Regions from separate parts of the Homo sapiens genome. Here region 1 is linked to region 2. Evidence: fine-mapped expression QTL. A gene starts in region 2. The other region holds a variant in brackets. All regions are shown on one strand. Distances are from middle to middle.

The links. PIP is the estimated chance that this variant, and not a neighbour inherited with it, causes the effect.
Region 1: its variant is fine-mapped to the expression of WNT10A in whole blood (INTERVAL, PIP above 0.99).

What each region holds. Positions count from the first base shown.
Region 1 is chr2:218,960,384-218,963,387 of GRCh38, forward strand. It overlaps CDK5R2 (cyclin dependent kinase 5 regulatory subunit 2), which reads left to right. Exons shown (of 1, transcript NM_003936.5): 1 at 1-1,772. The coding sequence ends at 541. Among named protein-coding and RNA genes, the nearest start is that of CDK5R2, 2.2 kb to the left of the region's middle. RefSeq lists an enhancer at 2,931-3,004. The variant A/G (reference allele first, on the strand shown) is at 1,467.
Region 2 is chr2:218,879,651-218,882,150 of GRCh38, forward strand. WNT10A (Wnt family member 10A) reads left to right here and starts at 1,202. Exons shown (of 4, transcript NM_025216.3): 1 at 1,202-1,458. The coding sequence starts at 1,346. RefSeq lists silencers at 628-687, 908-1,117, 1,138-1,277.

The sequences.
Region 1 (3,004 bases), 81 kb after region 2:
CTGTCTGGGCGACTTCGTGTGCCGACGCTGCTATCGCCTCAAGGAGCTGAGCCCGGGCGAGCTGGTGGGCTGGTTCCGCGGTGTGGACCGCTCGCTGCTGCTGCAGGGCTGGCAAGACCAGGCCTTCATTACGCCTGCAAACCTGGTGTTCGTGTACCTGCTGTGCCGCGAGTCGCTGCGTGGGGACGAGCTGGCGTCGGCCGCCGAGCTGCAGGCCGCCTTCCTCACCTGCCTCTACCTCGCCTACTCCTACATGGGCAACGAGATCTCCTACCCACTCAAGCCCTTCCTCGTGGAGCCCGACAAGGAGCGCTTCTGGCAGCGCTGCCTGCGCCTCATCCAGCGGCTCAGCCCGCAGATGCTGCGGCTCAACGCCGACCCCCACTTCTTCACGCAGGTCTTTCAAGACCTCAAGAACGAGGGCGAGGCCGCCGCCAGCGGCGGGGGCCCACCGAGCGGGGGCGCGCCCGCCGCCTCCTCGGCCGCCAGGGACAGCTGCGCGGCCGGAACCAAGCACTGGACTATGAACCTGGACCGCTAGGGATACCCAGGGGCCGCGCCCATCCCCCGCCCCAGCCCCTGACACACACTCGGACCCCCCGGGACCACAAAGCCACCGCCGCTGTTACCGCCGCTCAGCGCCCCGGCTGGGCGGAGGAGGAGACGCCCATGCCCCTCAGGGGAAAGTGGAGACCGGGACACCAGAGGCCGCGGTGTTTGGATTTGCTGGGCGTGGAGTGGGGACGGAAGATGAGCGCGGGAAAGGCACTCCAACCTCACTCTTCCCGTCTGTCTGCGCCCCCATTTCTCCATTTCTGCCGGGGTCTCCCCCTTCCCTTCAGCCCATTCCCCCTCGGTTTTATCCATTTCCTTGCCTCCTTTTTGTGTCTTCATTTTTCCTCCTGTCTGCATTCCTCTCTCTCTCTCTCCCTCTCTCTCCTGTTCCTCTCTTTCTTCCTCCCTCTCCCTGCCTTTCCATTTTCCGTTCCTTGGGTTTGTGTGTCTGCATCTCCATCTTACCCCTTGCCTGACTGTACCCCGTAGACCCCTGTTTCTCCTCCTGCACCTGTGTCCCCATCTGCCCTTCTTGTTGCTCCTGTCATGTGTCACCATCTTCCCTCCTGTCTGCCTTCTTCCTCCACTTGTGTCAGCTTGCATTTTTTTATTCCTGACTGAGTCACCACACCCCTCTCCCCTGATCAAAGGGAATATTAGTTTTTAATTTGGATCGACTGAGGTGCCAGGAGAAACTGCAGTCCCAGGTATCCAGACAGCCACCAGGATGGTCCCTCGCCCCACCCCCACCGCCTCTCCCCACCTTTTCCAACGTGTTGCATGCTGGGAGCTGGGGGGTGTGGGGGAAGGGGCTGCCGGCTTCTTTCAGGAGGCTGAGGTTTGGAGGCAAAATCAACCTGGGAGACCACCCCGGCCGCGGCGCCTCAGTGGACAGGTGGGAGGAAAAGAAA[A/G]CTTCTTACCTTGGAGGAGGGACATCCCGCTTCCTTATCCTTAGCTTTTTTGTTGCTCCTCCCCACTGCCCCTTTTAATTTATTTGGTTGTTTGCGGAGGGAGGGGGGAGGGGGGTAGGCTGGGCCGGGAACTGTCCGAGGTGCTGAGCTGGGGCGGGACCGGAATCCTCCCGGTAGGGTACCAGGGACTGAGTTGGGCCTGGGGCCGTGTCCAAGGTGCCAATGATGCGGGCCGACAGAGCGGGCCGCACTGTCTGTCTGTCCGTCTGTCCCGGAAAGAACTATAAAGCGCTGGAAGCGCCTGCAGATGGTTTTGCGCCGGTCTTTCTTTGGGCCCCGGGAGGGAGGGAGTGGGAGTGGTAATGGAACTGTCACAGACAGAGCAGAAAGGCAAGAGATGGGGCTCTAGTAGGGGAGATCAAGTACCTGAGAACTTCTCCTCCTCCCCATCCCCACCCCCGCCATCGGCTTCCATTTTACAGAGAGTAAAGAGTAAAGCGAGGCAGCTGAGGGTGAGGCCTGGTGATAAAGCTGAATCCATCCCCCCACTTCCGCCTCCATCTTGTCTGACCTAGCTCCTCATTAATGCCCGGGCCACTTAGAGACCGAATCATGGGGACAGCGGAGTTGTGCCCTTTCTGTGATGAGACCCATTGAGGCAGAACTAGCTAGTCCTTATTGCTATTTTTCCCTTCCTCCCCATCTCTCCCCACCATATATCGGTCAAGAGTACAGTCGGGCCTAAGTCTGTGTTCACCACTCCCAAGTGGGGCCTGTCTGCCATACTTCTCTCCTCATCCCCCAACCACCATGGGGCTGCTTCGACGATGCCCAGGTCGCACGCCCACTCAGGAGTCTTGGGGGGTCCATCCCTGCTTGAGACTCAGACCCTTGCCCTTTATCCCCAAGAAGGGGCAAACAAGGGCAGTTGGGGAGAAGGAAGCCATTCTCTGGGATTGAAACAGGAAGGAAAATGCGCTATTTAGCCTGAGATCCCTGCTCGGTCCCCATTGCCTTCTTAGCCACGTGGCTAAGCGCCCTGTTCACTGTTTCATTGGCCCAAAGAGGCCTGGCTTCAACAGAGTGCCCGCGGCTCCGACCCTAGTCTGGCCGTGGCCGAGAAGATCCGGAAAGAACCCGGGGGGACCTGCCAAGACGAGGCCCGGGTTCGCTGTCCGTGGTGCTGAATGGCGCGCTCGGGCGGGGTCGGGGCTTGTAAGGGCAGGAAGAGTTGCAGACTCGGCCTCAACTAGGTCTTCCGGATAATTTGGGAATAGGGTGTCATCTATTCTGGCGGCGAGTTATAGAAGTCTGGCTCCAGAACCCAAAAATGTCGGTCCCCACTTGCCCTCCCGGGACGACAGGACTCGATTCCCCTGGCCTCAGCCCAGCGCCCTTGTAACCTGCCTGGAGCCGGAAATCCCCAGTCCAGATTTGTGAATTGAGTTCCCGGAGGGAGGGGGAGAGCTGGCGGAAGGGAAGGCGGGAGCAGCCGCCCATTGGCTGGAATTTGGCGCAGTCAGCGCGGTGCCGTCATC
Region 2 (2,500 bases):
AGGGAGGGCCAGGACAAGACTGAGAGTATCTGCGGGCACAGGCAGGCAACACTCAGTGTTGGGGAGGCAGCTGCTGCGCTGGGAGTCAGGAGAGCTGCGTTCGGTTCTCGCTCTTCCGCTAATTTGCTGTGTGACCTCTTTGAGCCTCGATATTTTCTTGTGAAATAAAGGGGAGCTAAATAAACTATCTCAACGGCCACTTCTAGGGTTAAAAGTCTCTCTAACGCCTCCTCCCAGGACGTGCCACCCCGGGCGCTCCTACGCAAGCATTTTCTGGGGGCCTGACACTGCTGCCTCCCCGGGCTCACTGAGGAGACAAGGTGGTCCCCATGAGCCGCATTCCGCAAAGGGGCAGAGGAGGTCTCCGTGAGCAGGAGCAGGAGGCACCTGTTTAAGGTCACACAGCAAAGGGGAGAAGAAACCAGAGGCTGCCAAACTCCTCTGCAGGAGCCCACACCTGCCTCACACCAGGCAGGCCTGGGGGAAGTCCCTCCTCTGGCGGAGGAGGCGAAACACAGAGGCCAGCCCCTCCCCTCCAGCCCCTGCAGGTGTGTGTGTTGGGGTGGGATGGGGGCGCTCCCCAGCAGCTGCGTCTCTGCCAGGCACACACACCTCGCGGTAACACATATCCCCCACACAACCCAGCGCGCTCCACACACAGGCATCTTCCTGTGCACGCGCGCACAGACCCCAACACCTTTCCCTCTGTTGCCCTCAGCAGGGACGCTCCCACCCCCAGTCCCCAGCGGACGCAGTGGCCTCGGGACTCGTACACGCCTCCACGCCCCGCCGCGTGACGTCACGTGGGGTAGAGCCCTGAGACACTAAATGGCGGGGGGGTGGGGGGAGGAAAGGGAAGGCGGCAGAGCTCCCCGAGCCGGGACAGTCACTTACTCTACAGGCAGTGGGGCCCGACACAGACAGCGCCGCCCCCGCCAGCCAGCCTCGCACGCCCTCGGAAGCGCAGGCTCCCGGCGCTGCGCTGGAGGGTTCCCCGGCACCCCAGCCTCCCGTCCCCAGCCCGCTGCACCTCCGGGCCCCCCTTACCCTTGAGAGGCACCGGGAGTTGTCGCGGGGGGGCCTCGGGAAATTCCCCGGACCCCTGTGCCAGGAGGTGCCCGGTTCGCCCGCTCTTCACCCCCCGCCCCCCCCGAGGGCGGTGCCCGGGGGTGCTGCCCCATGGAGCGGGGAGGCGGGCGCCGTCTGCTCCGGGAGCCCTGACCCGAGTCGGAGCTGTGTGTCGCAGCCGCCCCGACCCCCCGCCGATCATGCGCCGGCGCCCCTGGCTCTCCAGTCCCACTGGGCTGTGAGCCCCCCACTCCCAGCCCGTCAGGGCCTGCGCGCCATGGGCAGCGCCCACCCTCGCCCCTGGCTGCGGCTCCGACCCCAGCCCCAGCCGCGGCCAGCGCTCTGGGTGCTCCTGTTCTTCCTACTGCTGCTGGCTGCTGCCATGCCCAGGTGAGCCCTCACCTCATGCTCCGCCCTCCTAGAGAGTTGGGACCCCGGCCTGCAGGGGCCTCTGATGCTCTTGCTGGGGTAGAGGACCCTGGAAGAAGGGAGGGACAGGGTCATAGGAAAGTGCTGGTGCCCAACCAAAGGCAGTGAGCTCCCTCATAGGAGGGGGTTGGACTGGTGACAGGATATGGGCAGTCCAGGGAGACAAGGCAGTGCCCAGGAGCATGATGGCAACTAGGAGGGGAGGTGTGTGTGGGGGGGGAGCAAGTGCCAGTCTGGAGTTCCTGCCCTGTTGGGGGAATGCACCCCCACCTCAGGAGTAAGCACAAGCTGCCTCACTCCTTCCTGCAGCTCAGCCCCAGGTAGGGGCAGGGGTTGGGAGGCTGGAAGGGGGTAGCCCAGGTGGGGTCAGTGAGAGACTGCAGCTGCAAGAGCTGTGTGTGTGTGTGTGTGTGTGTGTGTGTTTTCAATCGAGCCCAGGATCCCAGCAAACTGTGTTGGTAAACAGTAGTTTGTATGTGTGCCCATGTGTGCATGTGAGAGCTCATGGGTCAATGTATGTTAAGATGAACACATGTGTAAATGGGAGTGTCTTTGTGTGTGTGTCTGTAACTATGTCTGATGAAGTGTGCATGTGCGTAAGTGTGCTGGGGTTGGGTTTGTGTGTCCACCACAATGTGTGCAGAAGTGTGTCTATGTGAATGTGACTGAAACATATCTGTGGGAGTGGGCTTGTGGGGAACCCTGTGTGTATGGGCATCTATTCCTGGGGATGTGCATAGGAAATACTGTGGCCACAAGCATGGTGGATGTGTGTGCATTTGCACGCTTACCTGTGTGGGTGTGCAGCTAGCTGAGTGAGTTGCACTGGGCAGGATGATTGTGAGGAGGTCAAGGAGAGAGGAATGTGTAGGAGTGTACTGATGGGCCCAACCTTCAGAAGCAGAGGTTGGAAGAGGGAGTGATTATGGCCGTTGGGACAGAGTGTGTGTTGTTAGATGGGGCTCTCCTGGTCCCCCCAAAACACGTACCCACTCCACCCCAT